2 separate regions of the Homo sapiens genome follow, and region 1 is linked to region 2. Evidence: fine-mapped expression QTL. A gene starts in region 2. The other region holds a variant in brackets. All regions are shown on one strand. Distances are between the middles of the regions.

What was found.
Region 1: its variant is fine-mapped to the expression of SCOC in whole blood (INTERVAL, PIP above 0.99).

What each region holds. Positions count from the first base shown.
Region 1 is chr4:140,423,054-140,439,154 of GRCh38, reverse strand. It overlaps CLGN (calmegin), which reads left to right and starts at 11,507. Exons shown (of 15, transcript NM_004362.3): 1 at 11,507-11,618. RefSeq lists an enhancer at 12,301-12,350. The variant C/T (reference allele first, on the strand shown) is at 8,295.
Region 2 is chr4:140,364,792-140,380,892 of GRCh38, reverse strand. SCOC (short coiled-coil protein) reads right to left here and starts at 7,247. Exons shown (of 4, transcript NM_001153484.2): 1 at 7,176-7,247; 2 at 1,701-1,772; 3 at 1,241-1,324. The coding sequence starts at 1,722. SCOC-AS1 (SCOC antisense RNA 1) reads left to right here and starts at 7,501. Exons shown (of 5, transcript NR_033939.1): 1 at 7,501-7,630; 2 at 11,543-11,583. It also overlaps the pseudogene RPL14P3. RefSeq lists a silencer at 6,958-7,157 and enhancers at 7,318-7,367, 7,063-7,564.

The DNA.
Region 1 (16,101 bases), 58 kb before region 2:
CATCTAACTAAAATGGACTAGTTTCCATTCTCCGGATATCTCATGCTGTGACCATGATAGCCAGAATATCCATTTCCTCTGCCTTTGTCACACAGTTCTAATGTCACTTCTTTGATGAAGCTTTCATTTAGGAAGAATGAGTAACAACATACTTTATGCTCCCATAGCATTTTGTCTATGCTACTATTATATAATTTCTCATATATTATAGATATTTGGTTATATGTCTATTTCCCTAACTACATTATTAGCTATTTGAAAGCAGGAACCACGTGTTTGTCAGTCAAAATTTTTGCACACTGCCTAGGACACAGAAGATGCTCAATAAATGTTTGTTAAGACTTCTAGTAAGAAGTGAATAAAAGCACATGAGCCTTCCACTCTGAATTCTTATTAATATATTCATTAAAATAGATAACTAGGTACCCCCTGAAACAACATTCCAAATTGAGAATAAGAATTAAACACATATCAGAAACTTGGAGTTTTACATATTTTCACATCAATGGGTCAGGTTAACAACCTGTTTAGCTCACTTTCTGAGCTAAAACACTAAGACTAGAAGCAAGAGTAGGACTTGGCTGATTTAATGATAGCCGCAAACAAGGAAGGTGAGGAGCGGAGGGAAGCAGAAAGTAAAGCAGGGTCTCAGTGTAAAAGGCAAAAATGTCCTCATGAAAGTTTCTTAGGGAAAAGCTTTTTCTTGATGCTTGCTTTTACCTCTGTGTGCCAATTACATTAGATCTAGTGGTATTTTAAAAAGCCTTGTAACTGGTCTTCAATGAGAAGAACCGTATGTGATGGCATTGTTGTACTTACCACTAGAGAGGAAGCCTAGTGGAAAGCTTCATCTTTCCTTCCTCCAGTTTCTTGTCAATGCCTTTCATTGGCTGACCCCACAGAAACCATTAATGCCATCCATAAAGGCCACCTGCATGGGTCACAGAGCAAAGTGGAAGAGGATAGAGACTACATCTAGTGGGGCAAACAGAAAATATTTAGCATATTTCACCCCCTTTGTTAGCATATATTCTTGTTCATATATCTTGCCTTGGTGAAAAATGTATTCACACAAAATCCCCAGTAACATATCATTATGAGGTGATGCCAAGTCAGTTATACTCTTACCTGAAACCTAAAATCTTAGCTACCACCTGTGCTTCCACATAAGTAGCAAAGGAAAAAAAGGAAGCCAAAGGAAACAGATCACGAGACCCATTCTGAGGTTTGTGATGAGTCCTGGGTTGATTTTCAAACTTCCTTCTTTGATAATTCTTTTATGGTCCTCTTACCCTCTCCTGATAGTTGAATGGAAGGGGTTGTATGAAAATTGGTGTGACTCAACTTTTCTTCCTGTAGAATTTGGGTCCTTGGTGGATGTATCTTCCATTGATCAATACAGTTGAGTAAGGACTTACTAAGAAGTGCTAGGTTTTAGATACAGTTCTCTATTGCCCCCATTTTGTAACAGAAACCTATTTTCTCCTTGGTAATCAAGATCAATCACACTGTATACTAACCTTTCCTGCCTACTGGTTAAGCAGTACAGACTGTTAAGAAACAGCCACACATTCTAATTTAATGGAACTATGATTGTTCCCTCCTCAAAGCATTCCTCCCTGGGGCACTGGGACATTCAAACCCATTGAACTGAAAGTCTTGAGGATAAGAACAAAAATTGTGTTCAGGAGAGGATTTGTTGTAATGAGAGTGGCCACTTCCCCCTCACCCTTGTTTCCTACATTGGTCACCAGATTAAGACATAGTAAATCCAGTAGATCAGCACCCCAATCTCCCAGATGTTATTTTCACGAGGAGCTACAACTGAGTCTTCCAAAAGCCATTCCATCACTCTAACAAGGCAACTTCTTTTGGGTGATGTGGTACATAGTCAGACTAGTGAATCCATGGGGGTAAGACCATTATTGCACTTCCTTCTCATAATATGTATTTCTTGTTGGAAGCCGTATTGTGTGGGCTACCATGGCAATGGATGAGATATTCTGTAAGTTCATAAATGGTAGCTCTGGCAGAAAGGGAATAGACAAATCCACAACCAGAATGTGTATTTCTCCTCTGAGGACAAATAGCTGCTTTTTCCATCATGAAAGCATTCCAGATCCTCAAAATACTGCTAGACATCTGCCTGATCCCCATAAAAGATAATTCCAGCAAGACTTCCACACTGGCCTCTGCTGTTGACAGATTGAGAATTCAGTTACACTGGTAGCTAGATCACCCTCATGAATTAAAGCCCATTTTATTAAATCCATGCATGGCCTCAACACCTGCCTCCATGACCACTTTGTATATGGGGCCTTTGAGCTTGCATTTTTGGCCAGAAAAGGGGGCTGACGTGGATATTCTTATCCATCTGGATTTTGAGAACCTCCTCTGCAGTGGATACCTGTAGGGGGGCTTTATGTGGAACATACATATCTTCACACTCTGTGCCCACTCCAAGAAACCCATCCACAAACCTCTCTTACAACCTGCCTCGCGATCAGCATGTCATTCTTGTTCTTTCTACATCCCGGGTCAGCTAGCCTATCTGCTAGTCCACATATTATGAAGATCTATATTAAGGCTATCTTTCTTTCCACATGAGTGGACAACCAGAAATTCTGCCCACTGGAATGATTTCAGCTCACCCCTGCTTTTCTAGGACTTCCCTGAGTGGGGCTGTAATGTAGCAACTGTCCACTTCTCACTGCTACAAATATAGCAGGGCAGATCCATCCAGAAACCAGGTGGTACTTTTTCCTTCATTGTTAACTGGTCATAGAGGCCTCTTCATCAGGCCATAGATGCAGAGTGAGAGAGAAACAATAAGGAACCGTGTGAATCTGAGCCATCAGCATATGCAGTTTTGTTATGCTTCCTACACATGATCACATCTGTCCAATTTTGTGACTTGGTGAATCAGATTACCTCAATTCAGGTCACTTCATGTCTTATGGGCAGGCATTCAGTGTTTATGAAGATCCAGTAGTACACCAGGAGTTGCTTTTCAAGTGGAGAATTGTTGTCAGCAGAAGAGAGCATCTCTTACTGCAAAATCCTAGTGGTATGTTCTGTGATCCTCTTATTAGAACTTAACAGAAATTCCTCACCATGTCTTTATCAGCCATTGACACTTCTAATGCCACTGAATCTCCTGAGTCATAAGGCCCAAGTACAGGGACACTCTTTCTGTAGTCTGAACCTGTGGCAAGTTACAGGCCCCACTCAAATATGGAAGTTTTACAGATACCCAGGAAATGTGTCCTAGCAATCTGTCCAAATGTGGTGTATGTTATATCCCAAATCTGAGTAGGCCTGCCAGGTGTTGTGTCTCTTTCTTTTTGGGGGGTGGCCCAGGGTACAGCAACTTGTTTCTCACGAGGTGATATCTTGTCATAGCCCTCACTCCATGGAGCAGGGAACAAACACGGGGGATTCTGTTAGTTACTGCATATATTTAGCCCTATTACATATTCTGGAACTAGAGAAATACTACAGGTAGGGGGCTGTGACTTCACTGGACTCCTTTGGCATAGGGACTTAGGCCAAGACTCCATCTAGCATGTGACCTCCATAAATTCACAATCTGAACATAAGTACATGACGGTGCTTGGAGTCTTTAGGAATTAGTGTCAGTTCAGAAACAGTACTTTAAAAACTCTAGAAGGTCTGGATATTTCCCTTCAGCTAGTGCATAGTCACCCTGGTTGCTCTGGGGAAAATTTGGGGAAAGAATCATAATATACATGACTATTGATGCTGTAAGCTCCTTCCTCAAGAAAACAGCCTTCCCTTAGTACAAACGTGCGTCCAGTAACTTTGAATATCTCATTGAATGAATGGTTTTCTGGAAAAAATATTTAAAATTATATAGCAGAAAGTGGAAAATCTGAGTAAATGAATAATAACTCAGGAAAATTCAATGAACCAATCCACCAAAACATTAATGCCCATAAAGTTATAATAAACTTTTCAAAATCTCAAAAAACAATATAAAATTTCATACTATATAAATGATTCCAGGGCATGAGAGAATTCTTAAAACTTCCTAATTCATTGTATAAAATAAACTTAATTCTGTTATCAGATTCAGGCAAGAAAAATTATAGACTATCTCAATTATGCATACATATGTAAAAAGGCTAAAGAAACTTCATAAATAGAACTGAGAAACAAAATAATGGAATAATCAGTTATGAAAAGGTTAGTGTCTTATTCTTTTTGGCTGCTATAACAAAATGGCGTAGACTAGGTGGCTTCTAAACTACAGAAATTTATTTCTCACAGTTCTGGAGGCTGGGATGTTCAAGATCAAGGTGCTGGTAGATTTGGTGTCTGGTGAGGGATTGCCTCCTCAAAGATGGCACCTTCTCACTGTGTCTTCACATGATGACAGGGGCAGAGAGTTCCTGGGGCCTTACCCTTATGACTTTATCACCCCCTATAGTCCCGGCCTCCTAATACCAGACTGTGGGGGTTAGGATTTCAACATATGAATTTTGAAGCAACATAAACATTCAGACCATTGAAGTTGTCTTTATTCCCCAAATGCAAGATTGTTTCATATTCAGGAAATTTATGTATTAATAATCTCAACATGGGTTGAAAAGGCATGTACTGGAATTCAACATTCATTTCTAACTATTAAAAACTACTGAAAAATAAAAACAGGAAATTCATTTCACACAAAGAACAGTATTATACTATGATAATTTTTAATGTTATTTATTTAATTGTACAATTAATGCATAAATACATCTTTGTTATTAAAAAAAACTATTACCAACCAGGCAAAAGTTCTACCTGACAACCAACCAAAATCCCAGTCCTTTTCCCAGAAATTATTTCTGATTTCAATTTGGCGTGAATACTACTGTATATTTTCCTATGCATTTACATACATATGTACTTATTAGAATATATGGTATTGCTTTGGATTTTTAAAAGCCTTTGGTTAAAATGCCAGTTGATTTTTCACTCAATATTTGTTACTTAATTTTTTCTGTGTCACCAACATGGATCTAATTCTTTCTTTTTAACATCAACACAATATTCTAAAATATGAATAGAGCATAATTTATTTAGCATTTCCTCCTCTGATGCAGAAATTGATCCATTACTATTTAAATATTTTTTTCAGTGTTACAACAGTGTTTCAATGTACATTCTTCTGGGTGCCTACTTGAGCATAGAGTCTTTTTCCTAGTTTAAATAATCAGTAGTGGTACTGCTGACTCAAAAGGTATGAATATTTTTTATTTTAACAGATACTGCCAAATTGCCACCAGAAATAGCCATATCAACATATATCCCCAAGAGTAGTGTTTGAAAGCAGCAGTTTTCCCAAGTCTTGCCCTTTGCTATTAGTGAGCTTTGAAATTGTTGCCAGTCTAGTGAAAGCAGTATTTTGTTATAGTCTTAGTTTGCCTTTCTCAAATTACAAGTAGGGTTTAAATTTTCTCACATATTTATATCTTTCCTGATTTTTTATTTGAGATGGAGTCTCGCTGTGTCGCCCAGGCTAGAGTGCAGTGGCACAATCTCGGCTCACCGCAAGCTCCGCATCCCAGGTTCACGCCATTCTCCTGCCTCAGCCTCCCGAGTAGCTGGGACTACAGGCGCCCGCCACCATGCCCAGCTAATTTTTTTTTCTATTTTTAGTAGAGATGGAGTTTCACCATGTTAGCCAAGATGGTCTCGATCTCCTGATCTCGTGATCTGCCCGCCTCGGCCTCCCAATCCTGATTTTTTTAATGAGCTATTTGTCTTCTTCTTCTTCATTTAAATATGAGGTTCTTAAAACACATACAGGAACCTAATTAAACTCCTAAACTAAATATTAATAGTTTGTCATAGGCTAAAATTACTTTTCTCAGAAAGTCTTTTGTCTTAAACTTATTTTGTATTGTCTTTTGACATACAAAATTTTCAACTTTGAGATAGCCAAATATATTAATAATTTCTTTTATGACTTTTTCACTTTTCGTATTGTTTAAAACAACCTACCTACCCACATCAAGCATATAGTCCCATATATTATATTATAAAACTTCTATAATTTTTAAAGTTTAGGTCTCTATTTCCATTAAAATAGTGTGTGTGTGTGTGTGTGTGTGTGTGTGTAATGGTAGAAAATCCAACTCTAAATCTTTCCACCCCAAATGTAGAGCCAGATGGCCCCACTGATTTATATATTTATTAGTCCATTTTCATGCTGCTGATAAAGACATACCTAAGACTGGGCAATTTACAATAGAAAGAGGTTTAATGGACTTACAGTTCCACATCGCTGGAGAGATCTCAAAATCATGGCAGAAGGTTAAAGTCACACCTCACATGGTGGCAGACAAGAGAAGAGAGCTTGTGCAGGAAAATTCCTGTTTTTTTTAAACCATCAGATCTCATGAGAGTTATTCACTATCACAAGAACAGCATGGGAAAGACCCACCCCCATGATTCAATTATCTCCCACCAGGTTCCTCCCATGAGACTTGGGAACTGTGGGAGTTACAATTCAAGATGAGATTTAGGTGGGGACACAGCCAAACCATATCATTCTGCCCTGTCCCCTCCAAAATCTGATGTCCTCACATTTCAAAACCAATCATCCCTTTCCAATAGTCCCTCAAAGTCTTAACTCATTTCAACATTAACTCAAAAGTCTGCAGTCCAAAGTCTCATCTGAGACAAGGCAAGTCCCTTCCACCTATGAGCCTGTAAAATCAAAAGCAAGTTAGTTACTTCCTAGATACAATGGGAGTACAGGCATTGGGTAAATACAGCCACTACAAATGGGAGAAATTGGCCAAAACAAAGGGGCTACAAGCCCCATGCAAGTCTGAAATCCAGCAGGGCAGTCAAATCTTAAAGCTCTCCTTTGACTCCATGTCTCACATCCAGGTCACGCTGATGCAAGAGGTAGGTTCCCACGGTCTTGGGCAGCTGCACCCCTGTGGCTTTGCAAAGTATAGCCTCTCTCCCAGTTGCTTTCACAGGCTGGTGTTGAGTGTCTGCAGCTTTTCCTGGTGCACAGCGCAAGCTGTCAGTGGATCTACCATTCTGGGGTCTGGAGGATGGTGGCCCTCTTCTGACAGTTCCACTAGGTGGTGCCCCACAAGGACTCTGTGTGGGGGGCTCTGACCCCACATTTCCCTTCAGCACTGCCCTAGCAGAGCTTCTCCATGAGACCCCCGCCCCTGCAGCAAACTTCCACCTGGGCATCCAGGCGTTTCCATACATCCTATGAAATCTAGGTAGAGGTTCCTAAACCTTAATTCTCAACTTCTGGGTACCCACAGGCTCACCACCTGGAAGCTGCCAAGGCTTGGGGCTTCCACCCTCTGAAGCAGCAGCCTGAGCTGTACGTTGACCCCTTTTAGCCATGGCTGGAGCAGCTGGAACACAGAGTACCAAGTCCCTAGGCTGCACAGAGCAGAGGAGCCCTGGGCCCAGCCCACAAAACTGTCTTTTCCTCCTAGGTCTCTGGACCTGTGATGAGAGTGGCTGACATGAAGACCTCTGACATGCCGTGGAGACATTTTCCCATTGTCGTGTGGATTAACATTTGGCTTCTTGTTACTTATGAAAATTTCTGCAGTGGAGATTTTCATTTCTATCACATTGTCAGGCTGCAAATTTTCAAACCTTTTATTTTCTGTTTCCCTTTTAAAACGGAGTGCCTCTAATAGCACCCAAGTCACCTCTTGAGTGCTTTGCTGCTTAGAAATTTTTTACACCATATATCCTAAATCATCTCCCTCAAGTTCAAAGTTCCACAAATATCTAAGACGGGGCAAAATGCAGCCAGTCTCTTTTTTTATATATGCTGTGTGGTATGGATTGAAAAATGTACTTATTACATGTGAATATTCAATTGTACCACCACAATTTGTTGAAAAGACTAGGCTTTCTCTACCAACTGCATGTGTACCTATGTTGAAAACCAGTTCCCCACACTGTCTTATTCTGTTTTGTGTTGCTATAACAGAACACCTGGGAATGGGTAATTTATAAAGAAAAGAGATTTATTTAACTCACAGTCTGGCTAGCTGGGAAGTTCAAGGACATGGCTCTGGCTTGTGGTGAGGCTTTTGTGCTAGGCCAAAAGATGGCAGAGAAGGTCAAAGGGGAAGCAGACGCATGCAAAGAGGGAAAACCTGAGGGGCACCCAGCTTTATAACAACCCATTCTCATGGGAATGAATCCAGTCTCGTCAGAGCAAGAACTCACTCACTACTGCAATGGCATCAAGCCACCTACGAGGACAGGACCTTCATGACCCAAATACCTCC[C/T]ATTAGGCCCCACTTTCCAGCACTGCCACACTGGGGACCAAATTTCAACATGAGTTTTGGTTGGGACAAACCAACCATATCCAGGCCATAATACATACACATGTAAGTCTATATAGAATCTATTCTGTTCCATTGATTTGTTTGCCTTGATACTAATACTCTTTGATAACTCTTTGATAACTATAGCTGTATATCATTCTATAAATCCTAAAGTCGGGTAGTGTTTCTGAGGGGGGTTATCTTGAGACACAAGAAAAAAACTCAGCATGGGCTCATTCTGCCAACTATATAGTTTAACCAGACGAATTCTGGGAAAAACAATGATGACTATTGTCATTACTATTATTTACTATTGTTTGATATTTTTGTTAAAGTAATAAGGAAAAAAACCTCAGAAAATAAGTATAAATATAAGAAAGAAAAGATCATTTTCTGCCATAGACATAATTATACATCTTGAAAATAAAAGTCAACCCACTGGAAATACTTGTGGAATACTTTGTTTCCTTTTCTCTATTTTCTGCACCATTAAAAAGCACATTCCTAAACATATGAAAATATACAAACATTTTTAAAGTATTATTTGAATTATCTAGGTTCTGAGTCCACTCATTGTATTTGAGTTAAAACTTCATTCTGCATAGCTCTTTAATCCTGATAATCGAGGCATTTCCTATATTCTGCATTTTTCAAGTGGCAAGGTGTTGTGGAAAGGGCACAGGCTTTGAATCCTCACTCTGCATCTTAAGATCTGTGTGAATAAGTTATGTAACTGATCTGGGTCTATTTCCTCATAAGTAAAATAAGGATGATACCTGTGGGTCAATTGCATATAGCAACTTGCACATAGTAGAACATTAATAAAACACAGCTCTGATTTTGATTACAAAACAGGCTTCCAACAGGACATCACTCTGTTCCATCAAGGAGCATGAACCTTTCTGCTTTTTTTTTTTTTTTTTTTTTTTTTTTTTTTTGACACAATGTCTCACTCTGCCATCCAAGCTGGAGTGCAGTGGCACTATCTGGGCTCACTGCAACCTCTGCCTCCTGGGCTCATCCCACCTCAGCTTCCTCCCACCTCAGCTTCCCAGGTAGCTAGGACTACAGGCATGCACCACCATGCCCAGTTAAATTTTTTGTATTTTTTTGTAGAGATGGGGTTTCATCATGTTTCCCAGGCTGGTCTCAGGCAGCTCGGCTCAAGTGATCTACCTGCCTCAGCCTCTCAAAGAGCTGGGATTACATGCATGAGCCACCATGCCAGGTCACCTTTCCTGCTTTTTATGTTTTTCTAGATTTCTGATTACTCTAGTCCCTCCAATCTTGATTACATTGCCTTGGTCTCTTCCCAAATCTCTCTTCAACTTTGATGTGTCAGAACACTTCACGACTCTACCATTCAGCATTACATTCTGGGACTCCTCCGCTTGTATTATTAAACACTACATCACTCTCAAAAGCCATACCCCTTGTCTTATTTGCAGATTATTCTTTCTCCTCTGACATTATCACATTGTATTATTCTGATGAAAAGTTGCCTATTAAACAAATTATAAATATTATATTCAATCATCCTTTCAATAAGTGGCAAATAATTTTGGAGATATGTTAAGGCCTTAAATTTCAAGGTTAGAGATTAGATTTCATGCTGTGGGTAATGAAGGGTCATTGGAAACTATTGAATGAGCTGAGGATTAAACTACGAAGTGTAGGTGGGAGGCTCTGAAGGGGGGCAACTAGTTAGGTAACTCTGAACAACAGTTTCTAAAGTAGTGAGAATCTAAACTAGAGAAATGGCACAGGGACTGGAGGGGGTGAGGACCTCTTTTAGATGATTTTATGGAGTTAGAGTTTAATTTATGGAGGCAGTGAATGTAGCAGCCAAAGAGTAAAAAAATGTTCTCAAGGTTTTGAGTACTATGTGACCAAGAAGATACTACTAAATCTTGCAAAAATTCACTATTCTTACATTTTTAGTTTTCAGCTTCCTCACTGCAAACTTTGAATGGATCCTTTAAAAAATCCCTCTCTAGCAGTTCAAGTGTATTTGTTATGGGCCACAGAAGTATGTTGAATAATAGAAGTCAGAAGGACGGAAGAAAGAAATAAAGGGTATAATATTGTTACAAAGTATCTCAAACAAAATGTCTTTTTAACCAGTAAATTTTAACACTATCCAAACACTCTCCCAGAGATGACAAAGTCAAAAGTTTAGAAATGCTGGTCTTAATTAGTGAAGCAATGTGAAAAAACTCAGTGATCTTGACCCCTAGCCAATAATGATACGTTGTGCACGGAATGCCACCAAACCCTTAAGATTGAAACTCTTCAACAAGGGTCTTAGACTCACAAGTCAATTAAATGTTGTTAATTAATCTTCCAATAAAATTAAATTGTTATACCAAATTCAAAGTCAAGATTTACTATAAAATATTAAGTAGTAAAATTAATATTGATCCAATATATAAAAGGCAAAGCAGCTTGTGATTGCATAATCATAGCATAAACTACGTTTATGCTAAGATTTATTTCAATGTGTTTGAAACTACAGGCTCTGAGAGAGACAGGCCTGATTTACATCCCGTTTCCACTGTTTACATGTTGTGTAACTTCGAGCAAGTTGCCATCAGTTTCATCACCTGGGTTGCCACGAAGGTTAAACAATGAATGTAAGCCCCTTAGAGCACAATGAACACAATAAATGTTAGCAGCTCTTATTAATAGTGTTGTTCGAGAGAAAAAGAACATATTGTTTTATATACAATGTATTTATTAACACTTAACGCATCTGTATTTGTCATATACACACACCAGACAGGAAAGCTCCTTATTAATCACCATGACTGCAGATCTGTTAACATCTAGAACTCTGGAGAAAACCTAGAGCCCTAATCTTGCTGCACTTATTACTGGACGTTGTTCATAAATATGATTTACATAAAATTCAGGACCCAATCATTGCGCAACAGGAGGTAGCACGGTCTGCAGAGAGGGCGGGAGCTCAGAGGAGGAAAAGTCTTCGGACTTGCAGGGGGAATTCCTCCTGGGCTAACCCGGGAGCGGGGTCCAGGCCACAACCGGCCGGCGGCGGCACAGGCTCCATGTGCGGCTCCCCCTGGAGGCGGTTGAGCCCCTCGGAGCAGGAGCGCGTAGCACACACCTCGGGCCGCCACCGCCTCCCGCCCGCCACCGCACGCGCACGCGCGGTTAGTAGTCGCTGCTGCGCGGCCGCCGGCGGGACTGGTCTGAAGAGACGCGGGGACCAAGTGGCAACGACTTGGACATCTGAGCTGTCACTGCCGAAAACAGGCCGCAAGAGAGGTGCGTGAGCAGCAGGCCGCGTTCCCGCTGTCCCGCTGCCCTTTGCGCGCAGATTGGGGTGAGGAAGCGGAGTCGTTGCTGCTTCCCCCAGGCACCCCGTTACTTTGCCGCCAGAGGGCTGAACCGGTCGGGGCCAAGTGAGGGTGGATGTTGAGTCTGGCGATGGGGCTGCAGCGAGCTAGGGTCTTGACTGGGCTCTGGCGGCCCCGTGGGTGGACGCAGGAGGTGGTGCCACCTGGGACCCTTTGTGTCTTCAGCACCGCCGCATCCACCTGCTGCGCCCGGGCTGGGGCGGACGAGCACGGGGACAGCTAGGTGCCTAGCCCGGCCGGCCTCCCCTGCGGGCTTGAGGAGCCACCGGGAGCCGAGGCCGTTATTCCAGCGGTTGCCATTGCAGCCCCGTTCCACGCTTGAGCCCGGGGCGCTCTCCCAATGGTTGTAGAGGGGGCCCGGGGCGCGTCTGGGCGCTGCTCACTCTGCTGACTGCTCCTTACAGAAACCCAAACGAGATCAAAATAGGCTCGGCTGTCTCAGTCTCCACCTATGTGGAAGCGAAGGGACCCCACTTCACGGCGGTGGGGCCAGGGACTGTTGGCCGCTCCCTCGATACCCGCGCAGAGCCCATTGTGCGCCGCCGGGGGGCGGGCGAAAGGGCTGGGTTGAATCCAGAGAGGCCCTAATTACTAGACTCATTATCGCCCCAGGCCTGTTTACCATCAATCAGACACTTTCGCTGATTTTATTTATAGCATCTGCCCAAGCAACAAAGAGGAGGTGTTTGCTTGGGAGTTAAAAGCAAATGGCAACCAAAGCTCAGGACTGGGAGAGAAAAGGTAAATAACGTGGCCACAGGAAGAAGTCTCAAATTAGAAAAGAGTTCATTAACGTATAAACTTTTTGTTGCTTAAAAGCAGGCAAAATCCCGATCTCATCTGATGATTTTGCTTGTTTTACAAATGTCGACATCACTCGAGGTAGCCCTCCTTTGGGTCATTGTAAGTTTGACCTGTTTTCAGTTTGGAGTTTTGCCTTCACGTCTTATTGGTTTGATCTTCCAGTAACATTTAGATCTCATCTCCAAATCCTCAGAACAAGATATTCTGTACTCTCTGTCTTAGCTAGTTGATAAGGTTAATTATTGTGTGTAAATGATGTAAGTATGTTGATGCATTTGTCTAGAAATTGAAGTGTTGTAAGTTAGCTGTAGTACTTTTTAAGTACCTAATAAATACTGGTGTTTTTAAATAGAAAACTAGAATTATGAACTTTAAAGAATCTTTGGATTGTCTAGTTCACGTCACAAATGAGAAAACAGGCCCACAGCAGTTTTTATCACTTGTCTTTTTAATAATAAAACTAGAAACTTGGTGCGATTGTGCCATGTTGGGTGTACTTTTTATTATATCATTCTACATTGCATTCCTGAAGCCACATGACAACTAAAACTTTAAGTAATAGGTGATTGTCAAACACCACTTCTGGAATATACCAGTGTTGGTCGGATCCTCAGTCAGCCATTAAAACTGAATAACAGCAGAAAGGCATCGCAGTTATAAGAAATAGCATGTACAAAAAGTGTGTTAAATAGGTGTGTTGAGAGTGAAAGAAGGCCCGGCGCGGTGGCTCACGCTTGTAATCCCAGCACTTTGGGAGGCCGAGGCGGGCGGATCACCTGAGGTTAGGAGTTGGAGACCAGCCTGACCAATATGGTGAAACCCCGTCTCTACTAAAAATACAAAAATTAGCCGGGCATAGTGGCGCGCGCCTATAATCCCAGCTACTCGGGAGGCTGAGACAGGAGAATCGCTTGAACCAAGGAGGCAGAGGTTGCAGTGAGCCGAGATTGTGCCACTGCACTCCAGCCTGGGTGACAGAGCAAGACTCCATCTCAAAAAAAAAAAAAAAAAAAAAAAAGGAATTACAAAAATGTGTCACAGAAACATAAAGTGACTATAGTGTTGGAAAAATGGCAGCTGTAGACTTGTTCAATGCAGTGTTGCCAGAAACCTTCAATTTGTGAAAAATGCAATAAATCAACGTGCAGTAAAATGAGGTATGCCTGTATGTACACACACACACACACACACACACACACACACACACACACCCTATTGATTCTGCTTCTCTGATGAACTCTGACTAATAAAATGACTCTCCTCCAAGTAATGATTCAGGGATTCTGCAACTTCCTACCTTGGAATTTTGCCGTTTTCAACCATGACCTTCAAAATTGCTTGCATCAAACCAGAAGGGGAAAGATCATAAAGAATTATAATTCATAATTATAGGAAGTTTTTATGGGCAAGGGCTGACAATGGCATACAGGTCTTCTATTTACATTCTGTTGGCTGGAACCAGGTAATGGTCACATCTAGTGCCAAGGAAATTACCCTTGTGATCAGCCAGCAACTTCTCCCACACTATACAACACATATTGCATATCCTGTGATTGTCTTTTCTTTGTGTGCCTTACTTACCTTTGATGTGACAGTGAGCATTACTTCAATACCAGTACATGAGCTGCACTTTATAATTTGTAATTTGGGGGTGGTAGTGGAGATCCAGTAGGGTTTTTAGGAGATATTGGTGTAATTATTTAAAGTAGACCAGACTACTTGATCTAGATTTCAAAGATTGGGAAGAATGGTATCTCATTCATGGATAAAGTTACTTGTGCTTCAATTTGTTATTGAACTACCACAGAAGCAGTGCAGAGAACATACATGAGATCAAAGATACGTGTTGGTGCAGAAGGATGTAGTTCTTCAGTGCCTCCCTTCTTATGAAGGCACAACTGATATTTAGTGATCTCAGCAAGCCTCATGGAGTGAGGAATACATAAGAAGCTTGGAACCCTGGGCATGCTACCTTTTAATTTATAAGGAGGGAAGAGGGTGACATTAGCACTAAATGTTCTACCCTATACCATATAAACAAATTCTTGCTGTACTAAAATTATATAACTTAAACAACCATACAGATCAATAAAGAAATAGATAACACCACAAGCCAACTAAACATAATAAACATATGGACAACACTGTACCCAACAATAGCAGAACACACATTTTTCTTAACTGCACATAGAACATTCTCCAGGATAGACCATATTAGACCACAAAACAAGTCTTAATGAATTTTAAAAGATTGAAATCATACAAAGTAAGTTTTCTGAACACAAAGGAAAGGAACTAGAAATCAATAGTAGAAGGAAAACAAGAAAAATTCACAAATATGTGGAAATTAAACAGCACACTCTTGAACAATGAGCCAAATAAGTCTCAAGAAAAGTTAGAAAAACATCTTGAGACAAATGAAAAGGAGAACAAAAGATACCAAAACTTATGGGATACAGTGAAAGCAGTGTTAAAAGGGAAATTTATAGCTTTAAGCACTTACATGAAAAACAAAAGATCTCAAGTTAACAACCTAACTTACACCTTGAGGAACTAGAAAAAGAGCAAATGAAACCCAAAAGTTAGAAGAAAGAGGGAAATAATAAAGATTAGAGCAGAGAGAAACAAAATAGAAAATAGAAAAACAAGAGAGAAAACAAGTGAAATCAAGAGTTAATTCTTCGAAAAGGTCAACAAAAAAATTAACAAACCTTTAGTTAGATTAAGAAAAATGAGAGAAGACTCAAATAACTAAAATTGGTAATGAAAGGACATTACATCTGATTCTACAGAAATAAGAGGGATTATAAGAGAATACGCTGAAGGATTGTATGGCAACAAATTGGATAACCTAGATTAAATGGATACATTCTTAGAAACACACACTCTATCAAGATTAATCATGAAGAAGTAGAAAATCTGAACAGACCTGTAACTGGTAAGGAGATTGAATCAGTAAACAAAAACTTCCCAGCAGATAAAAGCCCAGGACTAGGTGGCTTCACTGGTGAGTTCTACCAAACATTGAAAGAATTAACACCAGTCCTCCTCAAATTCTTCCGAAATATTGAAGAGGAGTAAACACTTCCAGATTCATTCTATGAAGCCAGCATAACCCTGTTATCAAAGCCAAAGACACTACAAGAAAACTACAGAGCAATATTCCAGATGATTATTGATGCAGAAATTCTTAACAAAATACTTGACAACAAAATTCAGCTGCATATTAAAAGAGTTATATACTATGACCATGTTGGATTTATTCCTAAAATTCAAGGATGATTCAACATAAGAAAATCAGTGTACCATGCCACATTTACAATGTAGGGAGGGGAGAACACATGATCATCTTTATTCATGCAGAAAAAGCATTTGACATGATTCAACACTCTTTCATAATAAAAAACACTCAGTACACTAGGAATAGAAGGAAACCACCTCAACATAGTAAAGGTCATATATGAAAAGCCCACAGTTAACATCAGACTAAATGGTGAAAGACTGAAAGCTTTTCCTTTAAGATCTAGAATAAGACAAGGATGCCTGCTTTTTCCACTTCTCCCGAGCCAGAGAAATTAGGGAAGAAA
Region 2 (16,101 bases):
GGATTCATTCTTAAAAGAAATAATACAATCCTTAAATTTTAAGAATTCGGATTTTAGAGACAGCAAGGTAAACAAACTGAGTACAAATTAGTAGACAAATTCCTAAAAAGATATTTCACATTAGACTAAATGCTATTCTTCATAAATAGCATTAATGTTGAGTAATTTTTTAAAAAGACTTTGTTTTTAAAATGTGAATTTTGGTTCATGTCTTATCAACATAAAACTATAACATCTTTACTAGAAATGTTTAAGATATATATCAGGTTAACACAACTGAATTCATATACTGAATACAGGCAGTCAGTTTCCAAGCAACTTATCATCTTGTATTGTAACATTATCAAGACATTGAACACATGCAGTTCCTGATGATCACATAAGAGGTTAATTCCGGCTGGGCACGGTGGCTCGCACCTGTAATCCCAGCACTTTGGGAGGCCGAGGCGGGTGGATCATGAGGTCAGGAGTTTGAGACCAGCCTGGCCAACATAGTGAAACCCTATCTCTACTAAAAATACAAAAAAATTAGCTAGGCATGGTAGCAGGTGCCTGTAATCCCAGCTACTCGGGAGGCTGAGACAGGAGAATCGCTTGAACCTGGGAGGCAGAGGTTGCAGGGAGCCGAGGTTGCGCCATTGCACTCCAACCTGGGCAACAAGAGTGAACTCCATCTCAAAAAAAAAAAAAAAAAAAAAGAAAAAGAAAAAGAAAGCTAATAGGGAAGTCACAGATGACTTTTATTAACTCTGTAAAATGTAAATCAGTGGGAGGTTCTGAGTGACATGATCTGCTCACTGTGGCACCAAAAACACAACCTCTTAATTTCATTAAAACTCAAAAGATGTTTCAGTGTATTAATTTTATGCAAGATTTAGAAAATGAAAAAATTCAGATGAATTCCTTTTTAATCTCCAAGGCTAATACATTGTTTTTACTTTAAAATAAGCTTTATTAAAGCGGACTTAGTAACACATTATGGGGACTTAAAAGGGGGTCTCATACTAGCCAGCATTATGTTAGGCTTCAAAGAGGGAAGCACAATAACAACATTTGACTTGACTGAAGTGTATCTGTTCTTTAAACTACCAAAGCAGGAAGATAGATATATATATGTGTGTACTTTGAAGTTCATTCTTTTAAAAATTATACATCCTAACAAACAAAATTTAGCAATATAAATTTTTACAAGTTCAATTAATTGGCTGTCATTCAAATAAACTACAAAATGCAAGCCAACCTTCAAGTGTGTGTTGGAGTTCCAACACTTGATTAATAAGTCTTGTTTTTTCCTCCAGTTCCACTTGATTTTCAGCATCAACTGCTGTAATATAAAGGTTCAAATTTACTATTAATTAGCATTAGGTACATTTGTGTAGGGTAGCACTTAAAAATCTGCAAAATGTTTTATATTCATTCTTACTTGACTTATACAAGAGCCCTGTGAAATAAAATTTTGTATCCCCAAATTGCAGATAATACCACCAAGGTAAAGAAGATAAAAACAACTTGCCAACCTCTCATAGCTAAGGAATGGAAGCTGCTTTGGTTGGTCCTTTCTAACACTAGATGAGATATAAATAAGTAATTAGCCAAGATCAAAGTCTTCTAAACATGGTTTCTCTGCCCTTTCCATTGCTTAATAAAGCAAAAGCATCCACAAAACCAGGAGTATACAAAAAAGAAAATGAAGAACATACCATCCATGTCAGCATTCATCATCTTGGGTAACAAACTTTTGGGCCTTGGATACAAAATTCTTGAGGAATGGTCTACAATAAGAAAAATTCAGAAATATAGACACATACAGCAATAAACTATAAGCCTGTTTTTCAAAGGAGGATGATTTTGTTAACTATGACATAGTAGGACTTTTCATATGCTTTACTAAGAATAAAATAAATGCCTAATGGGTAAATAAGCAAAGGATATAAATAGTTTGAGAAAATGTTGAGCTTCTTGATAATCAAAAAATACATAAATACCACCGTACAGTTATTATTTTTAAAGGAGATAATGATCAATACTAGCAAAGAGTTATGGAAAAACAAATACACAAACACTGGACACAAATTTTAAATATGTAATCTTTTTGGAAAGCAGTATGATAATAAGATTCATAAAAACATTTACATCTTTTTTAACTGAGTATTTTACCTTGGAAATTTAGGCTAAGGACAATAATGCAAAGAAAGTTATATACATAAAAATCACTTCAATTTTATTTACAATGAAGTCAATCAGAAACAACATAACTGCCCACTCAAAGTCTGGTAAATTACAGTTGTGATTTTCTTTTTAAGAAGACATATTTTTATTTATTTATTTAGAAATGAGGGTCTTGCCAAGTTGCCCAGTCTGTATTAAACTCCTGGACCCAAGCAATCCTCTTTCCTCAGCCTCCTGAGTACAGTTATAATTTCTAATGGAGTGGCTACTGAAAATAATTATGACTATACTACATGAAAAAATGTGTATAAAATTGTATATTCACTGATGTAAATTATGTGAAATATATATAAATATGCATAAAAAACATGAAAATGAAAAAATGCTCTGATATTAAGGATGACGGTATGGATGAAGATAAAATTGTTTCAAATATTCTTCTTCATTAAAGTATTGCTTTACATATACTGTTTAATTTTTTACAAATAAAATTCAAAAGATAAATACTAGACCATCTAAAATATTAATATGGAATAAATGAAAAAATGTCCATTCATCAGCTCCTAGTCAGGGTTAAATCAAAACAGACTAATCAGGATGTAAATAAGTAAATAAATACTAACATTTTATTATTACAATGAAGACTTCTAAATATTAGAACAAAAAATTTCTATAAAACATGTTCTGCTCCATTGCTAACAATCATTTCATTCAATATGTTCAAAATATATTAAATAATGTCACCAGATTATTACTGAAAACAGATTTGTTAACCAATCTAATCTACTACATTGAAGCAACCTAGACCTGTCAGTGTTATTCTTTCAACAAGTATTTACTGAATATCTTCTATGCCCAAGGCATTGTTATGCCTCCGTATCTTAAACAGTAGAAAGCAGACCTATTAAATAAGGATATCTACATACTAGAACTAGAATCACAATAGAGATATCAGTGTATTACACATTCTCTCACAGCTGTTAATACAAATCTTGTTGTACTTCAGATACTAACATGAAATTTGAAAATGCCCAGTGTACATCTACATAAATCCTGTTACACTTTAGATACTAACATGAACTTCAAATTAAAATGCCCAGTGTACATATACATAAACTTCAAGTTTATAGTTCAAGTTAGATAGCACTCACTAGTCTAGAAAAAAATATGAAATATCCCTTGTATAACATTATTAAATAATTAACTACAAATGGTATACAATTAATTTAATAATGCTGAATAAACCTACTCCAAGTCTTCTAGCATCTGTCCCCTTATCTAAACCGCATTTAAAGTTGCTCTGCCCGACCTCTTTTTCACATTATTTAATTCTCAGGTTCTCTGCATTTCAGATTACTAAAATTTTTCCAACAATTCTTTTTTTAAAAGTTATTCAGCCTACTGTAGTATTTAAAGACCACACTCCAAAAACTATTCCTCTCCATTGAATCAACATGTCTCTTTAACTATAATTGAAGAGGAAGAGTGTCAGTGAAAACTTGATTTGACATTTCCCTGACAGAGAAGCACACCTGTAACCAGGTACTACAGTCATTCTCTTTTCATACCATTTCAACCACTGATCCAGCTAAAAGAGGTCTGAGTAAGATGAGAGAGGCAACAGCCAAAAGCAAAAGTGATCGTGGGAGTGCTCAGCAAGAGTAAGCTGCAATTTGGCATCTGTCTTTGCTAAATAATAAATTAAAAGTGCTTCAAATTTCTCATATCCAATGATTTTAAGGCTACAGCTAGAACGAATTTTCATGATAGCTAAGAAGAGTTATAAGATATACAAGCCAAAGCAACAGATAATCAGAAAATCGACACAGCTGATTTTGAAGTCAGATATAATACAGTGATAGGGTAGTCTTCTTTTGCTTATGTTTCAGACTAATATTTAAATTAAACCAAAAAGTCTGCAAAAACACAAGTATTCCAAACTCACCAATATAAGAGGTAAAGAAAAAGAAGCCAGTTTCTGAAATTCTGACCACATATAATTCAAACAATAGAAAACCTATGCATGGTTTAGCAACAGTGTGACTTCATCTGAAAAAGTGAAAGAAAATAAAAAGCAGAAAAACAGGGTGGAGAGGGCTTATTAAAGGAAAAATTACTCTTACACTCAAGATTAGGGTAGAGGCAGGAGCACAAAAGTAGTGCCACAAGAACAGTGCTATAAGGGTATACAACGCGAGAGAGCACAATTCACACCACAGTCTACGTAAGATTGCATCCCAAGTGTTGCACAGTGAAAAAACCGCCCACTGTATCTGGCAGCCCTACGCATAAGGGCATTACTCTTTAGTACAGTGGACCACAGCATTACCTGCTGCCTTTCCACGACAAAAGAACAAGAAGCAATTGTATTTTATTGTGATGTGATCAAATAGACCCATCTCAAAATGCTACTATTGTATTAATATATATTCAAAGTCTTTCAGTAGATTTAGGGCAATAAACTGATTTGTTTGACATATGGGATCAAAAGACTTGCTGAGTTCTTTATGTCAAAGTATTTTAGCCATGGATTTTTTCTTTTAAAATAGTATTGATCCCCAAACTGCCCAAAGTCTACATTAACACAGTACTACATCATAACAGATACTTAATACTGAGCTTTTCAAATTTTTCAACTATAAAATCCTTTTTTACCTATAGTTGCTATAACATCAATCTAATTCCATGTCAAATATGCTCTTAAGAGTTCACTTTCAACTCCTTCTGCTCCTATATATAAACGCAAATCTGATGAAAAACGAGAAAATTAAGACCAAGTCTGCTCAAGCGTGGGAACACTGAAATGAATTTGGGGCGCTGAGGCTGCTCTGCCTATCCTAAACCACCTTACCCCAGAAATGGACATGGTTCGCTGAGATTCTTCAGCTCTGATGTATGGCTAGGTCAGACCTTTCAAAGGTTTCTCAAAAAACACAGTAAATTCGGGTATCTAGCCTTGGTTAGTGGAAGGGAATCTAGAATTACTTTTTTGATTATTTAAGTCCAGGAGGCAGAACGCATAGAGAGAATACAAACCAGGAAATGTGGCAAACATTGGGACAAGATTCATTTAATTAAATAATTTTTGCCATGCACACACACCTGTGACCAAAGACGATCATCTTACCAAATATGCCCCTATCTTATTTTACAGTTATCTCTAATAGTGTACAATATCCACAATATCACTCTCCTCAAGAGGCAGCCTGGCACAATGATTAACAATATGGATTCAGATTACCTGGATTCAAATCCTAGCTCTGCAATTTATAAGCTCTGGAACCCTGGGCAAGGTTAACACCTCGGCCTTAAGTTTCCTCATTTGTAAAATGTGGATAATAACCGTACGTATCTCATGGGTTTGTTGTGAGAATGAGTGGATAGATACAATGTGTTGGCAACAGTACCTAGTACATAGTAGGTATTCAATAAATGTCTGCTATCGTCTTCTCTACCTTTTAGCTCTAATTTGGGCAACAGAAAGAATTTAAAGAAAACCATCTGGTCCAGCTGCTTCATTTTACAAAATCAAGGCCAAAGATGACAATGGCTTACTGAAGACCACAGAAGTAGTTAGCAACAGGGCCAAGACTACAACAAATGCCCAGTGTTTTTTCCACCATTCCACCACAACTATTGTCACATCTGAGCCTGCAGATTTTGAGACTTTTTCCTAATACCCGTCCATCTTCAGCCACTCAACTTTTCTGCATCTAAAATTGATTTCACCATCTGTCATACTGGAGAACTACTAAGACTGCTAAAATAATGTCTTCGTGCATTAATGTGCTAAATGCTTTGCATATGTTATTTCATCAAATCAACAGAAGGAAACTGCAATTTACAGATATGGACACTAAATTTCAGAAAGTCTATATATCTTTCAGAAAAGCTGTTTCAGAGGTTTCACAGCCAATGTCTCTACCAAGAATTTGAACCCAGGTCTAACTTCACAGTCCATGCTTTTTCCATTATGCAATGGAAAAAACTTTAATATGGCCCTAATCTTAAGTTTGCCAAACATTTTGCTACCACTGATGTCAAACTCCTCTGGAATCTTTACTAAGCAACTGAAAATAAACTCCATTCCCTTCAAGCTACGGAACTTCAATATAATGTCTGTTCAGATCTGTTCAAGTTCTGCTTTGACTTGTCCTGGTTAAATAAATCCAGTTTCAAATTCCACAAGATCAAGGAACTGTTTGGCCAAATGAGGATTTAAATGGAAGCTATACTCTCAGAGAATGGCTAGCTACACTGATTTTAATCAGGAATAGAGGTACCAGAATACATGGGCACAGCTTTGGGTCCTCGGGCATAGAAAACGTGTTGGCAACCTGGAATGGCATCTGTCCTTATTGTTGCGTAATAGTGTGAGGTTGACACACTGTATAACAGAAGCCCTGCCTTTCAGGAATGTATCCTCTTTCTCCTTTCCAAACCTTTCTTCCCAAAACTTGTTCAGCAGGACTCTGGGGGAGAAGACGATCAGGAAACAAACCCAGGTGCCGCTTTCGCCGCCTGGAAAAATGGTCCAATCCTTATTTTACGGCTCTCTAGGCTCCCTCCCCACCTCAGCCTCCCCTCCCATCTCTCAGGCTCTCGCAGAGCAGCCACGGGAAGGTCCAGGCGTGCCAGGTCCCATTCCACCCAAACGCCCCTCCCGCAGTCCAATTCCAGAGCCGAGAGCTGCAAAGCGGCTCCCGACCCAGGAGCTGCGGGGAGAAAGCTACACGATGTCTGCGTCAGGGACCGCGAGAGGTCCCTCTCCCAAAGAACGCCTGGGCCTGACAACGAAAACAGGAGAAAAAGAGGTCGCGCAAGGGTTCTGCCGGGAGCCAGGCCTCCGCCGCCCACCAAATGCCCAGGCCCGAGACCGCTCCTCCCGGGCCCCCGGTGCGCAGGGCCGCGTCCAGCCCGCCCCGCCCTCCAGGCCCTCGGAGGTACTGAGGATGCAGCTCTAGTCGCCTGGGGCCAGGCCCTCCGCTGCCCGGGACGGCCCTCACCTTCCGCTTGAGGCGCCGGGAGAAGGAGGGATCCGGCCGACACCTCAGGCCGGGACACTTGGACCAACTGACCCCGGCAGCTCCGCCCACTCCGCCCACAGAACGTGCGCCGTGAGAAGAATCCCATCCCGTCCCAGCCGCTCGCCCGCCAATCCTGACTCGAGAATACACGCCTGCGCATTAGCTGCCCGCCTCACCCCAGTCGTCCAATCTCAAAGCACCGGGATCCACCTTTGCCATAACAAAAGGACACTGACATCCAATCAGGATTGAGGTCGCTGTGGGCGGGACCTGGAACAGCGACAGCCAATGACAGTAAAGAAGCGAAGCTAAGCGGCGCTGGTGAAGCGGCTCATCAGGTCTATCAGGAAACCTGAGAATTGGAGTGAGAATCCCAGTGTGGAAAATCAGGAAAGAGGCTGGTATGAGCGACAGAGAAGTCATTCAGGAAAGAGGTTGGTATGAGCGACAGAGAAGTCATTCAAGTTCGAGAAAAGAGCGTTTGCGAACCAAGCAGAGAAAGTCAACGCGACACCGTCGTTCCTTAATTCTAAAAGCAGACTTTTTCATATTTTTCTTATTTCCGAAATCGGAAAGCTTATAGTTGAGCTAGTGGAATGTTCCTCTCCTCACGCCCCTCCTCCGAAACTATTATTAAATCTGTAGTGCGTGGCCATTTAATATTTTAGAATTGAGAAAATACCCTAGTGGTACTGAGGCATAGCACTTGTGCTTACCTTACCCCTGTGGAGCCTCACAGCAACCCACAGAAAGGAACTGAAGCCTGAGCGTGAACACATTTCTTGCTCAAGGTCACATATACGGTATCAAGAGTGGAGTGTTCTTCGTGACACCGTTCATCGTAATCTAGTACTTGACACAAAGCGGCATCCTGCTTTAATATTCGTTGAGTACAAGGTAGACATCCACAGCAATACATTATTATTTTGGCTTTGGCACAGCCTCCTAAGCTGTAGAGACAAGCCTTATGTCTCCCTGTTTCTTGACTTTTTACTTCTGGCACAGTTTGCTGACACATCGCCTTAATCATTTTAAGAGCTATATAAAAATATCTTCTATTCAGTGTTTTGAGAACTATGCATTTGGCTGCGACTGCAATATTCAGTTTGAGGAAATTTACTAGAATGCAATGTAGGAGCTAAATAAATGAAAAAAAATCCAACATAAATCTAATAGGAGTGCCAAAAAAGAGAGACTAGAGAGAATGGATGCAGGCAGTATTCAAAGAGTAATAACTAAGAATTTTCCAAGATTGTGGAATATTTGAATTTTCAGATTCAAGAAGTACTTATTCTTGAGCAGGATTAATATAAGAATTCTATGCAACGGTGAAATTGCAGGACACCAAAGATCAAGAGAAACTATTAAAAGCAACCTTTTGTTTTTGCTAGAACAGTATTTTTAAATATTTTTAATTGTAGTGAAATATACATAGAATAAAATTTACCATCTTAACCATTTTTAACTTCAGTAGTATAAGATACATTCCACATTGTTCTCCAACCAATCTCCAGAACCAATCTCTCTTTTCATCTTGCCAAACTAAAACTGTATACCTATTAAAGAGCAACTCTCCATTTCCTATTCCCCTCATCCTCTGGCAGTAATCATCTTACTTTGTGTTTATCAGTTTGACTACTCTAGGTACCTCACCTAAGTGGAATAATACAGAATTTGCCCTTTTATGACTGGCTTATTTCATTTAGCATAATGCCTCAGAGTTCATCCATGTTATAGCATATTGCAGAACTTCCTTTTTAAGGCTGAATAGTTCTATATATCATTTATTATGTGTATTATGCCACATTTTGTTTATTCATCTATCAGTGGACGCTTAGGTTGCTTCCTCCTTTTGGCTATTGTGAATAATACTGCTATGGACATGGGTGTGCAAATGTCTCTTTGAGACCCTCTTTTCAGTTCTTTTGGATATACACCCAGAAGTGTGTGTTAATTTGTGCTGAATCATATGGTAATTCTATTTTAAAGCAACTTTTAAAAAAGTGGTATTGACACAAGAATAGACAAAAAGAAAATTAGGAAAAAAAGGGTACCTGGAAGTTGGTATACAATAAAGATGTCTGGTGAGGAATAACTGTTTCTAAGGTTGTGGGGAAAAAACTATTATTCATTACTGTTGGGAGTGTAAATTAGTATAGTAACTGTTCGTGGGATATAGAAAACACAAGTTATGGTGGTTCTAGTTAAATTGGCTATTTATATAAAAATAAGAAATTCAATCCTGATACCACGACAGAAATAAAACTAAATTCCAAATGAAATAATGATCCAAAATGTGACAAACAAAACTCTAAACTTTTAGAAGAAAAGCGTATGTCTGTATATCGCCGTAGGGAAGAAACAGCACGATTCATTAAGGAAAGATGTAAAATATTGATTATTTTAAAATTTGGAAGTTTTACAAACAGAAGAGAAGCCATCTCTAATCAAGTTAAAAAACAAGCCACAGGTTGGCAGAATATAGTAAAACTCTCAAAATATAAAGAATTCAGGCCAGGCGCGGTGGCTCACGGCTGTAATCCCAGCACTTTGGGAGGTCGAGGCGGGTGGATCACGAGGTCAGGAGATTGAGACCATCCTGGCTAACACGGTGAAACCCCGTCTCTACTAAAAATACAAAAAATTAGCTGGGCGTGGTGGCGGGCGCCTGTAGTCCCAGCTACTCGGGAGGCTGAGGCAGGAGAGTGGCATGAACCCAGGAGGCAGAGCTTGCAGTGACATGGTGCCACTGCACTCCAGCCTGGGCGACAGGGTGAGACTCCGTCTCAAAAAAAAAAAAAAGAATTCAGACAAATCAGTAAGAAAAAGACAACTCAAGATAAATATATGCAAATAACGTAAGTAGGCCACTTACAGAAGAGGAAAACTGAACGGCCAGAAAGGTTTTTAAAAAATGTTTACCTTCACTAATAATTAGGTAAAATAACATTAAAACAATTAGATAAAGGGGCATATTCATCAAGAAGACACAAAATCCTAACCACAGTGCTACAAAATAGAAATGAATCAAAAATTAATTGAATTCAAACAGTTCATTACTCCCTGCTCTGCAATTTGTAAAACAACTATACAGATAATTTAAGTATACAGAACTCAGGTCCCAAACTTTTCAGTATATTAGAATCACCTGGGAATCTTTTAATTATTCTAGTGAACAGACCACACCTCAGAATAAATTACAGTCTTAAGGAGTGAGATACAGGCATTAGTATTTTTGAAAGTTACGAAGGTGATTTTGAAAAAAGGCTGGCAAATTTCTGAACTATTGATATAGAAGACCTGAACAATCCTATCAGCCAACTTGACCTAATGGACATTTGTAGAACATTGCACCCAATAACTGAAGAACATGCTTTCTTTTCCAATGCACTTGGAAAATTCATCAAAATAGACTCCACTGTGTATCATCAAACAAATCTCAGCAAATTTAAAATAATTGAAACAGTAAAAATTATTGTCTCTACCCACAAATTAAACTAGAAATCAGTAACAGAAAGATATTTGTAAATCTCCAAATAGTTGGAAATCAAACTATGTACTTCTAAACAAACCATGGGTCACAGGGGAAGTCACACACAAAAAAATTAGAAAGTAATTTTAAACTAAAATGTAAACATAAAAAGGCAGCTCTTGCATGACTCAGCTTTCAGCTTATTTTCAGCTTTCAGACTTGGGAGGCTGAAGCAGGAGAACTGCTTGAACCCAGGAGGTGGAGGTTGTAGTGAGCTGAGATGGCGCCATTGCACTCCAACCTGGACAACAAGAGCGAAACTCCATCTAAAAAAAAAAAAAAAAAAAAAAAAAAAAAAAAAAAAAAATCCCCCTTCTGAATAAGGAAAGGCTATAAGTACAAATAGAAACCACTGAGATTGCATAGAAATATTTGATTATAAGGTGAACATTCATGCGACCTGGACTATGTGAATATTGATAATATAGTTCATCTAAATAAAGGCACAAAATTACATTTTTTTTCCTAGAGAATGGGGGAAGTCCTAATTGAAAACTGTACAAGGCAATATATTATGTGGGGGAAGAAATGATAAATAATGAAATAGAGAACTTCCAATATCTTTTTGATGTTCCAGTCTGGCACACTCTCATTGTGCACATACAAGCTGCTATTTTGTCTTAATTAGAGGGTTCTAAACGTACTGTGGATATTTAAGGTGAAATATGCTAAATGGAAGCATTTTTGATAACTTTCAAGTATAACCAGGTGTGTTGTCTGATGCTTTAAGCTCATTAATTTGCAGAACATGTTCCATCTCATTCCTAAATAAGAACTCACATTTTCTTTTTTACTCATTTTTTTCACTTGAAAGGTTATTGAATTCATTGGAGAATGAATGCTGTTCTGAATTTGGTGAGTAAAGAATATAACCTATTTGTTAAAACTTGATTTCAAAACTAGACGTAATTGTATACTACAGCCTAGTATACTATACTCAACAGTATACCATATAGCTATTTGGTAAATTAAGGTGTTCATGTATACTTTCTCAAGATTATAATTTCTGATAATAACCAAAAGTAAATAAATTTGATGAGTCATTTTCATTTATTTGTTCAATAGGTAGAGGGAATGTAAGAAATTACCAATGTACTTTTAGAGTTTTTTCAAGCAAGAATTCCAAAGGATTTCAAGGTCTTTATGGAATCAAGCTTTGGACTTTATCATAAAAATGGAAATAATTAGGAATGATTCTGTGCAGTCTCGGTGCTGTGAAAGGAGAATAAAAACGTGAGACTCCAGTTCACTCTGCCAGAAGGAAAAAAATAAGCTGAAAGCTGAGTCATGCAAGAAGCTGCCTTTTCTTCTGTTCCTAAGCAGATAGCTACAGATAAAAGGTTAAATATCTCCATAGGTAGCTACTCTATGTTCACCCTATTTCATGTAAAGTGCTGATTTGCTGCACACAAGATGAATGCATCATTCACCATTCCCCTACCTGCGCCTTTTCTCCTGCAACTTAGATTACTATACCCTCGCTCTTACCTCTCCAACCCACTTTTCCCCTTTAAATACTGAAGCTCTCAAAGTCATCCTTGGATAAAGGAACAGACCAGAGACTGTTTCTGTGATTCTGTGTTCTTTTCTTCCAGGTATGTCCTTAACCTTGGCAAAATCAACTTCTAAATTGAATGAGACCTGTCTGAGATACTTTTTGGTTTACAGTCCTTATTTTTCTCTAGATAGTATTTTCAAATTAGCATTTCCCCCAGAATTGGTATTTATACCTCTGGTTGTACAAGATGAATTTTTAAAAATAATTACATGTTTATTTTATTATAATAAATACGAATAATACAAGAAATTCTCAATTCACAGATGTTAACATGTTGCTTAGAATAAAGCTAAGTTCAAAACTGATTTTAATTAAATGGTTAATTTAATGTGGCAAAAATTATGATGTAGGTATATGATTGGTTCAGAAAACTCTGATCTACCAACAACGTGACAAGCATTGGTTTGAAGAAGAAGAAACCTGGGTTCTTGTTCTGGCTCAGCCTAGATTGAATTCATTCCATTCTTTGCTCATTTAAAAGTTTAGTTTTGTGACTATATCGTGAGCTAGATACTGTACAGCATTCAAATATTTGAAATTAACCATGAGACTGCAGGGAGTTAGTCACTTTCCTGTCCACCCCTGTTTCCTCAAGTGAGGGCTTGGAAGAGAGTTCATTTAGCTTCTTAACATGGTGTAAAATAACATTAAGAACTTTATCAAACAACACTACCAGTGAGTTAAGTGAATGGTTCCCTATATTTAAGAGTCAATCTTTGCTGGTAAGATTGTGTCTGACCATCCAGCTTTTGGCACCCTGCCTGCCACAGGTTCTCAAAGCATATTTTCTGAGTGAGTTGTCATTGAGCCACCTCATTCCAGCTTTTGTGATTTTGTGATTCTGTGATTCTCTAAACACGAATCTACATTTTCAATCATGTCAGCTGGGTACTTGCTCACTAAAATTTTATAAAAATAATCTGGCTTTAGACTGGGCACAGTGGCTCACATCTGTAATCCCAGAACTTTGGGAGGCTGAGGCAGGTGGATCATGAGGTCAGGAGATCAAGACCATTCTGGCCAACATGGTGAAACCCCGTCTCTACTAAAAATACAAAAATTAGCCAGGCATGGCAGCACACACCTGTAGTCCCAGCTACTCGGGAGGCTGAGGCAGGAGAACTGCCTGAACCTGGGAGGCAGAGGCTGCAGTTAGCTAAGATCACGCCACTGCACTCCAGCCTGGGCAACACAGCAAGACTCCATCTCAAAAAAAAAATAATCTGGCTTTAAAATCAAGATTAATCATATGTGTCTGGGTCACTAAAGGAGATTCTGTTTTTAACAAGCATAAAGTAATTCTCTGAAGAGCATAGAAGTCAGGGTTACAGTGATAACTAATATTTTTATTTATTTATTTATTTATTTATGAGAAATGGTCTTACTCTGTCACCCAGGCTGGTGTGTAGGGTCTTGCTCTGTTGCCCAGGCTGGAGTGCAGTGGTGCGATTTTGGCTGACTGCAACCTGCACCTCCCAGGTTCAAGTGATTCTCCTCCTCAGCCTCCCGAGCAACTGGAATTACAGGTGCCTGCCATGACACCCGGCTAATTTTTGTATTTTTAGTAGAGATGAGGTTTCACTATGTTGGTCAAGCTAGTCTCAAACTCCTGACCTCAAGCGATCCACCCACCTGGGCCTCCCAAAGTGCTGGGATTACATGCGTGAGCCACCACGCCTGGTCAATAACTAATATTTTATAAAAGAATGCACCTGGCCTTCTTCCTTCTTGCCAAACGCCACCAACATGGTGTTCAGGCGCTTCGTGGAGGTTGGCCGTGTGGGCTACATCCCCTCTGGACCTCGTGCCAGAAAATTGGTTGCAACTGTAGATGTTATTGATCAAAACAGGGCTTTGGTTGATGGACCTTGCACTCAAGTGAGGAGACAGACCATGCCTTTCAAGTGCATGCAGCTCACTGATTTCAACCTCAAGTTTCCACACAGAGCCCACCAGAAGTATGTCAGACAAGCCTGGCAGAAGGCAAACATCAATACAAAATGGGCAGCCACACGATGGGCCAAGAAGATTGAAGCCAGAGAAAGGAAAGCCAAGATGACAGATTTTGATCATTTTAAAGTTATGAAGGCAATGAGGAACAGAATAATCAAGAATGAAGTTAAGAAGCTTCAAAAGGCAGCTCTCCAAAAGCTTCTCCCAAAAAAGCACCTGCTGCGAAGCGTGCTACTGCTGCTGCAGCTGCTGCTAAAGTTCTAGCAAAAAGATGACCGCTGCAGGCAAGAAGGCTCCAGCTTAGAAGCTTCCTGCCCAGAAAGCCACAGGCCAGAAGGCAGCGCCTCCTCCAAAAGCTCAGAAGGGTCAAAAAGCTCCAGCCCAGAAAGCACCTGCTCCAAAAGCGTTTGGCAAGAAAGAGGTGATTAGAAAAGTAATAAAAGTTCTATTTGGGAAAAAAAAAAAAAAAAGAAAGAAAGAAAAGGAGGCACCCAAGATTGCAAGCAAGGCTCTAAAATGCTAGGCTGCTCATGGATTTTTAAAATTGCATTATACAAACATGATCTTTACAGTTTTCTGTTTCCCTGGTAACCATTTATGATAAAAATAATCAACTTGTTAGAGTTCCTCTGTCAGCTTTTGTCAGGATCTGGGATGTTACCCTACAGTTGACCCTTGAATAATGTGGGGCTTAGGAGGTGCCAATACCCTGTGTAATGGAAAATCCATGTATAACTTTTGACTCCCCCAAAGTATAATTGCTAATAACCTATGTTGACTGGAAGCACTACCAATAACATAAACAGTCAATTAACACATATTTTGTATATATGTTGTATTCTTACAATAAAGTAAGCTAGAGAAAAGAAAATGTTATTAAGAAAGTAAGAAGGAAGAGAAAATATATTTACATTACGTGGAAGTGGGTCATCATGAAAGTCTTCATCTTCTTCATTTTCACATTGAACAAGCTGAGGAGAAGGAGGAAGAGAAGGGGTTGGTCTTCCTGTCCCAGAGGCAACAGAGGCAGAAGAGATGGAGGAGAAAAAGGGAGGAAGGAGAGTCAGACACTCAGTGAAACTTTATGAAAATACATTGTAATTTCTGTCTGACTTTTTGCTCCTTTTCATTTCTCTTAGAATGTTTCTATATGGTAACACCTTTCTTCCACTGCTTTGGTTTCAGTGCCTTTATCAAAGAAGTTTCAGTGCCTGTATCATAGAAGCCATGCCATTCTTTTTGTCCAAGAAGTCAAAAGCAGTCTTGAATAACTGGAACCCTTCTGCCAGATTGTCTAATGTCAATTTTTCTGGCACTGCCTCTTCTATGTCTTCTTTCTCATCATGTGGCACTGGTTTGAAAGCACCAATCTCCACCATGTCTTCTTCTGTTAATTCCTCTGCTGTGGTATCTGTTAGCTCTTACATTTCTCCAAGATCCAGATCTTGAAACCCTTCACTTTTCACTTTTTTTTTTTTTTTGCCATATCCATATCTTTCATGATTTCTTTGATTGGCTCTGTGGTAAATCCTGTGAAGTCATGCACAATATCTGGATAGTTTTCTTCAGCAGGAATTTATTATTTCAATCTTGATGACCTTCACAACTTTTTTTTATAACAACGATGACATCTTCAATGGTGTAATCATTCCAGACTGTCATGATGCTCTCTCTATCAGAATTCTCTTCCATGGCATTGACAGTCCTTTCCATTGAGTACCCTGTGTAATAAGGCTTAAGGGTTCTTAAGAGCCAAGGATCTAGAAGCTGAATTAAAGACATTGTGTTTGGGGGCAAGTAGACCACATTGACAGCTTCAGTTTTGACCTCATGGGGTTCTGGGTGGCCAGAGGCACTGTCCA